2 linked regions of the Homo sapiens genome follow. The protein of the gene in region 2 purifies or fractionates together with the protein of the main gene of each other region. This does not show direct contact. Each region holds a gene or a part of one and is shown on either strand. Other genes may lie near its edges.

Region 1 (3,500 bases), on a different chromosome or scaffold from region 2:
TGGGGACGGAGGGTGTTCCTGGAAGAGGAAGCCTGTGTGTGTGAACGATGGGGCTGTTCAGGTTGGCTGGAGTGCCAGAACATGGGGAACATGCGGACAGCTCTACTGGGCTGGCAGAAGAGGGGACAGTCTCCTGTGGAAGAGGAGGTGGCTGGAAAGCCCCAGCTGCACTCTGGGATGGGGACGACTGGGTGACTCTGGGCTAAGGGTCCCTGGGAGCAGATGAGGGCCCTGGGCACGTGGGGCTCACCGTGGAATGCTTCCAGTAGAGGATGATCTCGGGGATGTTTTCCACGGGGTGGAGGAGGTGGTAGTCTCTCCACTCGTTCCAGTCAATGGTCATCGTGCCGTTTTTATCCATGCTGCAAGACAGAGGCGAGGCTGCCCACGTGCCCACATGCCCATCCGCCAGCTGCATCCCCCCACCTCCCAGTGAGCCAAGGGCAGGCATTCGGATGCCCAGAAACCACACGAGGTGCCTCTGCCCCCAGGAGAAAGAGCAGGGGGCTCCACACCCCACTTAGCACAACAATGGCAATATAATGGCCCACAAGAATCCCGCTCTGATCAGGCATGGAAGTCAAGGGAGGCAGTCATGAGCGACATGGATACTTACTAGGTGACAGGGCCCCAGAAATGGCCCGTTCGTATTCTGACAGACAGACAAAGGATGCGGAGGAGAGAGCAGAAACAACACGCATAAGTGCTCGGAGCCATGTTAGTGAAGCAAGCACACACCCAGAGACAGGGGCACAGCACGGCACGAGACGAGCCCGCCACAGCAGCTGAGCCCAGGGCTGCTGTCCCCGAGGACCAGCCAGTGTTCAGACCGCAGGGTTTCCGGAAGGTCCAGCCAGGACAGACGGCAACTCCCAGGGCTGTTCCATGAGATTTCCTGGCAGCCGCCCCGCACCAGGGAGCTATCTTTTGGGGCAGCGCCTCTGACTAAAGTGTTAAGTGCAAGTTACCAGCATGGGGAAGAAATTCACCTGGGAACGAGGCTGCAGTGTGAGCCCCCCGCCCCGCCCCGCCCCCTCCACACGCACAGGTGCTCCTTGCTGGCCTTTTACCTATTTGAACCACCCCCAAATTAGTTTTCCCTTCATGGGCCACTGGCCGATGGGCAAAATTCCAGGTGATCTGTGATTCTTCCAATGAAAGCAGGCCTGCAACCCTGGGGAGGGGCTGGCCTCCCACAGGGGTTACTTATTCATCCTTTCAAACCACGAGAAGGCCAAGTTCAGGGTCAGCCCAGGGAATGGCATCGGAGGGTTAGTCTCAGAGCCTTCCCTTCATCACACTTAAACCAAACACAGAGGCTGGCTGAGCACTCACCTCTTGAGAATTTTTTCTGCCTGCTGTTCAGATATCTTGACTCCCAAGTCCCGCAGGGACTGCATGATCTCCTGCGCGTCAATGCGTCCTGCAAGAACAGAGGCCGTGAGCAGGAGCCAGGCGCACGGGGAGGCCCGAGGCTGGACCGGCCACAGCTCTGAAGGCAACACTTACCATCATTCTTTTTGTCCAAACTCTTAAACACCAGCCTCAGCTTCTTCTCATGATCTTGGAGATAATGGACAAATTCTTCAAAGTCTAGCTGCCCATCAAGGTCCTTATCTCCAGCTTGTACAATTTTCTAGAAAAGAAAGGTAACATTTTGTCTTTTGGCTCCTGGACCAGCCTTTCCTTGTCCCTTGTGGGGCCCCATCCCCAGGCAATGACTTCACTAATTGCGAGCAGAGCTGGCCCCAAGGACCCAAGATGCTTCTGCTCCACTCTCAGAGCCACCATGGCAATCGACTTACATGCCAGAGCCACCACCTAGAACCCCAGGTGCTGGCCAGAACCCAGGCAAGGGCCAATCTTGTCTCCCTCTCAAGCAGAGAGGAAACAAGGAGCCTGGGAAGAGCCCTCCGGACAGAGGCCGACAGGGACAGCTGGGCACTTTCTCAGTCTGAAGACCTGCGTGCCGTACAGCCAGGGTGAGCAGGGTGGCTTCGCTGCAGCGCCGTCCCTGGGTCCCTGGACCCAGGCTTCAACCACACATGCTCCCTGCTGAGACTTGGGGATGGCCATGGAGTCCAGTTTCTGACAGGAACTCTGCAGCTCGCTGTTTCTCTCCTAAAACTGGCATTGGTCCGAGAATAATTTGGTGGGCAGGTGAAAATCGGGGGCAGAGCCAGACTCTGCCACAGCACCCGAGGCCGGGGAAGTGTAAGGAGCCAAGGGCATGTGTATGATGGTACTGCCAGTCCCTGCTCTCAGGGAAGCCAGGTGATAGAGCTGCCCTGGCTCTCCCGCTCACTCACTGAAAAGCACTTTAGTGTCCCAAGAAGGCTTTGAGAGACTGTTCCTTGGCAATGAGGTTCCAAAAGTAACCCCCCCCGCCCCCGCCTCCCAGGAGGTGGGCTTTGTTCAGCAGCTGTTAATGGTTGGCAACTGGGACAGCTCCACGAGAGCACACATTTCCCCAGCACCTAGCACCGGCCGCAGGGCGTGCCAAATGCTTTACTTCTAGCAACCCACTTACCCCCCTCGCAAACAGCTCTAGGAGGTAGGAAATGTCATTTCCCCCATTTTACAGAGAAGGAAACAGGAGTTCCGAGAGCCTAAACATTTACACAAGGTCAGACAGCTAGGGAAGTGGTGGGCGGGATGCAAGTTGGGCCGTGGTCCTCCCAAGCCGCCTCCCTGCACATCCTGCCGCCACCCTCAAGGCTAACCTTCAGAACATGGGGGATGAAAGTGAGTCACCCCAACTCAGCAACGCCCTGAATCCGGAACCCAAAACTGGGACCGAGAATCTCCCAAGGAAGATGGTATAGTCTTCCTGTGTCCTCCGGATTTCTCACTGGGAGAAATCAACTGACAGCCAGCTGGGGTTTGGAAATGGATGGCCCACTGGCTAGCTCGCGTCCTCAAAGGATCACCACCGCGCCTCTCTCTTAGACACACTACTGACAGCGCCTTGTGATTCCTCAGCTGCCAAAGGTGTCAGGGGCAGGGAGGCCTGAACAGATACCCCATGACCTGGCGCGATCAAAAGGCTAATGTGAGGGGCGTGGCTGGAATGTAGGACAGATGCAGGTACATATTTTATCTGCTGAGGTTACATTTAACTTCCTGTGGACATCTGTGCTCTCAGACAAGAGTGACATAAATCACCTATAGGGTGACTGCTCCAAATCTCTAACAGGAATGGAAATAGAGTGGACAAGCCATTTAGGCAGGAGGCGAACATCAGGCATGGAGCCCTCTGGGACCCAGCCGCCTGCTGCCAGGGTGAGCCACATGCCTCCCTGGGGTGGGTGCTGTCGCAGACACCCAGAGCAGAGGGTGTGCTCACCGCAGCTGGCTTCAACGCATTCTCAAAGTGCTTGCTTCTGCCTCACAGGGCCTGGGCCTCCTTCTGTCTCCTTCCTTGGATCTGCAAATCCCCCTTGGTGCACAGTGGGCACTGGGGGTAGCAGGGAAACTGATTAACCGAGAAGCCGAGGTGG
Region 2 (5,044 bases):
ATACTTTCTCTTTTATCAATTAGACAAATCTAGAATTCTTAATGTAACTGCTTTAAAGTTGGCAATAAAATGTATTTTTTAGGTATTGGAATACTGATAACTGAATTTCGAAATTATTCATGTGTATTTCACAGTAATGGTTTGGTTAATCATATGTTTAATCAGAAAAAAATCAAGTAGAACACACATCAGATTTTTCTACCATACTGTTTTTTTAAAAAATAATTTCAACTTTTATTTTAGAGTTGGGGTGCATATGCAGGTTTATTACATGGAGATAAATTGCATGTTGTGAGGGTTTGGTGTACAGATTATTTCGTCACCCAGGTAATGGACATAGTACCTGACAGGTAGTATTTTAGTCCTCACCCTCTTCCCATCCTCCCCACTCAATTAGGCCCCAGTGTTTATTGTTCCCTTCTTTGGGTCTATGTGTACTCAACGTTTACCTTCCACTTATATGTGAGAACATGTAGTATTTGGTTTTCCTGTGTTAATTCACTTAGGATAATGGCCTCCACTGCATTCATGTTGTTGCAAAGGACACGATTTTCTTCTTTTTTATTGCTGCTTAGTATTCAATGGCATATATGTACCACATTTTCTTTATCCAATCTACCATTGATGGACATCTAGGTTGATTTCATGTTTTTGCTATTGTGGATAGTGCTGTGATGAACATATGAGTGCATGCTATTTTTTATAGTCAGGAAATTGAAAGGTAATTAGAGTTCAAAATGTAAAACATTTTGATTATCACATATAAGAATTAAGACATTCTTTTGAAATAGATTACTTAGCAGTAAGTATCATTCCTTTACTTATTCATTAATTCATGAGAAGGTATTAAGCATATACAACTTGCCAAATCTTGTGTGGGGCACTTAAAAACAGAAAGATGATTAGGACACAGTACCTTCCCTCAAATAGCCACCAGGCTAGTGGGGAAAATAAATAAGTGCATAGATCTTTATGATTTAATGTGACAAATGTTGTGCTCTGTGCACCCAGAGATCAAAGACTAACTGTCCATCTTAGTAGTAGAGGGATAGGTTTGCAGTGGAAATTATTTGTGTGCTGAGTCTTAGAGGGCATTAGAGTTTCCTTCTGATGCTGGCATTAAAGGGCAGAGAATGATGTGTGTAATTGGCTATAAGATAGTATGGCGTGATGTGAGAACTCGTAGTGGTAGATTCTCCAAAGGAAATTGGGTGCTGAGAGCATCAGGATCTTTATACTGTGGTTAGATTTCTATACTTACTCTAGACATCTTTTTTGATTTTTGCATTTGCCCAAGCAGTTTAATACTATACTAAATGAATATTTGAAGAACTGAACACAGAGAATTTTAATGCAGTTTTGTCATTTATTGAGTTAACAAATACATACTGAGTGTTTACTGTGGGCTAGACATTTTGCCATCTGTTTTCATTTAAAACGTTTCCAAGTTACGTGCTAAACATTGCTGTTCAAATTCACATGTAAGAGTAAAGGAATAGAAGGTCATTATGATGCTTTAATGTGGTGGAGAAGTCAGTGATGTATCCCTAAACTCGTAGTAATATGAGGCCCAAAGTCAAGCTGGTTACTTAGAGTCAGACACTCCTTTGAGATTAGAACTAGGACCCAAGGCTTGGACTCATATTCTGTTAACCACAGTCAGAGGTATGTATGTAATCAGGTAAGAAGGAGTAATTCTAAGGAGGTCAAACATTCTTCATGCTGCATTGACATTCAGGTGCTACTTGTTAAATTTTTATTATTTTTAATAAAGGTAAATTTAAAGCGTTCTAGGATTTACTCCCCAAATTGGTACATATTAAGGGAAGTGGTGTTTAAAAGATGTACTTTTACCACAGTTGCTGGGATTAGTATTAAGTATTATTAATTATATTTCCTGATACTCTCATGCTTTCTTTTTACAGACAAATCGATGGTAAACCAGAGAAGCCTTCAGTAACATATGCAACATATCGAGGCCCAAGACACATTGGGAAATATTTAAAGCAACAGACAGGCTTGGCAACTGTGAATACCTTGGACAGAGAAAATGAAAGTTCTGACTCTAGTACAAACAGACACATTGACCCTGGAAGTGAGATTGAGGCTGGGGTACTGCCACTGTTGTTATCAGCTAGTACAGACTCATCTATGAAAGGAAATCTACTTGAAGGCCCATTAGAAGACTCTGATTGTAGCAAAACAAGTTTCAACAAGGAAAATTCTTTGACAAATAACCCAGAACTGCAGAATATTGCCTCTTCCAATAATCTTTTAAATAAAAATGCTTGGGGGAGTATTGAGAGAAATAGGTCATCCCCTTCTTCTGTGACTAACTCCAGCTACGATGGAGAATCTGACTCACAGCACCATTTAAGTTGTGAACCGGTTTCTCAGACTAACAGAAATTTGGTATGTTCAGCATTGTTAACAGGAAGTAACCATCGCAAAGTCCCTTGCAGCCCAGATTTTCAGAGAGTAACTACAACAGAAAATACGATAAAAGAAAACAGCACTGTGATGAGTAATAGGACATTGGTGCAAAGAGAGGAGCTTGTTGAGCCTCAGGGCCCTGCTATTTCTGATTTCTCTTGTAGTAAATCTGATGGGAGTGACACTACTGAGCAGGAAAGTACAAATTTGCCAAGTCCAAATAAATCAATTAGGCATGAACATCTGCAGTTGCCAGAGAGTGAGTGTTCTGACAAGCAAACCATAGATAGCTCATCAAAGCAAGCTGCCACTCACACCAATATCATTGCTCTTCAGAGACATGCTGTGACAGACACAGAATTTGTAAATGAAGGAAAGAGATTGTCTGCCCAAGACTCACAGAAAAATGTGGCTGTTAGAGAAATCAGGCGAGAAACAGAAAGTGCCTCAGCTGGTGAATCCATAGCTTCAAGTCATGTAAAAGCTCCAGAAGATAAAATTGAGTCATTACCCAAAGATACTGACCAATACTTTGAAACCAAAGCCAAAAAGCTTGATTTTAGGTCACATGATAAAATTCCTCATATTAGAATGAATAAAAAAGACCTGGCCTCTTTAAATTACATCAGTGAATCAGCAGTTGTAGCAAGCTTAGGAAATGAAAATGCACCTGAGTTGAAATTTGAACTTAATAGAAGTCACATTTCAGAAACTCCTCTTGACTCTGAGAGTCCTCAACAAGCTGAAGTATCACCTGATGCTAAAACATCTCTTAGCCTTGACTGTAAAAAACTAAATTTCAGTATTTCACCTCCTACCTTTGTTTCTGGAGTTGGGATGCTGAGCAAGTTGGATATTCCTGATTTAATGAATGAGGGTTCTCCTGTGCCCATTGAAACTGGGAATGTCAACATTGTTGGTATTTCCTATCAGCCTAGGAAGTGTAAAGAAGAAAATGTGAAAAACCATGTTGAGGCTGCAGGCAGGAAGAGTCCTCCTCCTTCCTTTTGCCTTGAATATACATCTGCAATTTTTGAATTCAAAGAAGTTCTTTCTAATAGTGAAAAATGCCAGGTTCTTCCAGGTTCTGAAGCCAGTGGCCCTCACTTAACTGGGTTGGAGCTATTGAGCTTTGACTCTGGAAACCTCTCTAAGGATTGCAGTTCCATTTTATCTCAAGACCCTAATAGAGTAGAGTTAGTGTCTTCAAACACTAAAGCAAATATGAGCATAATAGAGAAGTCTGATTCTCTTTCCTTGGAAGCCAAAACTGCTAACATTGTATCAAAAGCTGAAATTGATGGTCAGAACAATGTTCTTGTGGAGTCACATTCTGGAAGAGGAAAAACTATATCCTTGTCCAAGGTATCTCTTTCAAAAGTGGAGCCCAGAAACATTTCTCAGGATAAAATGTCTTCTTTTCCATTGAAAATTACCCATGTTCCAGAAAAGCCTATTTTGTCAGAATTAACCTTTCTAGAAGTTGAACAGGGCAAACGTTTTCAATCAATTAATCATAATGAGATAGGAGAGAAATGTTCAGATGCTGGCCTTAAAGAGAATTGCCAAGCTGAGCTTTCTCCTGCTGCCTCCAAATATGAAGATAAGCCAGAACCAGAGGTAGATGCCTTAGGCTCTCCTCCTGCTCTTCTTAAAAGTAATATATCTTGGATTTTACCACCTATTCATGATGAAAAAATCAGTAGGCAAATGGCGCAGAATTGTGAAGCTCACACTTGTGTGTTTCATCAATCTTTGGATATTTGTGGGACTAAAAAGATTTCTGGTCACTCAGAAATGGCGGAACTCAGCTTAACTAATATTTCCCCTAAATTCCAAGAAACTGGCAGCATGAAAGTAAATTCACCTTTTCTGGATTCTGATTCCAGTTTGGAAAAAAATTCTTCTGCATCTGAGGACTCAAGCTTCCTTAAAGTACCTTCTGTGCTGAAATTGGAAAAGAAATCCTCATCTTACAGAAAGAAAGAGAACATCCATTTTTTAAATGGTGGTATTGATAGTGTGTCATCTTCCTCTAGTTACCCTGAAGAAGTTAGCATGATAGTAAATTCACATAAGCCCCAAAATAATTTGGATTCTATACAAGTTACCAAAGATCTCACACATGAAGGTACCTCTGTAACTAACCTGTTGTACCCTACTACCTCTTATTTGGAATTTGAAACGTCTGTCTCAATTGGGACAGAAGTAACCCCATTTCAGGAACATTTTGGGATTTATACTGGGAAGATATCCATTGATTTCCCAACTGCTGCCCAATTTGACAATCTCGTGGAAGCAGAGACTGGAGCAGTTGCTGGGCCTGCAGCGTCAGTTAACAGCTCAGGCCAACAGTGTTCTGAAGCCTCTGCTGAGCACATAGAAGCCAGGAGAAGAGCACATGACCAACTTTTGGACCTCAAAAGTAGTTTACTCAAAAAGGCCGATACATTGATTGGTGAGATTTTTAATTCTGTCAGGGAAGAACTAAAATTCAAACACACAGTGAGTACCTGCCAGGAGCATATAGCCATAGAAGGTATAATGAATCTGGGTACCCTGAAAGAAGACATCTCTGAGAAAAACCCATCAGAAGTGACACTAACAGAAA

The links. The genes of interacting proteins can lie anywhere in the genome.
Region 1: the proteins of CRYBG3 (region 2) and SLC25A25 purify together in Homo sapiens (co-immunoprecipitation; one large-scale study listed by IntAct). This does not show direct contact.

What each region holds. Positions count from the first base shown.
Region 1 is NC_000009.12:128,099,232-128,102,731, reverse strand, and holds part of SLC25A25 (mitochondrial adenyl nucleotide antiporter SLC25A25), read right to left. Parts: intron 1,637-3,500; coding exon 1,510-1,636; intron 1,424-1,509; coding exon 1,336-1,423; intron 653-1,335; coding exon 617-652; intron 363-616; coding exon 251-362; intron 1-250. UniProt on the Homo sapiens protein: Electroneutral antiporter that most probably mediates the transport of adenyl nucleotides through the inner mitochondrial membrane.
Region 2 is NC_000003.12:97,869,917-97,874,960, forward strand, and holds part of CRYBG3 (very large A-kinase anchor protein), read left to right. Parts: intron 1-1,925; coding exon 1,926-5,044.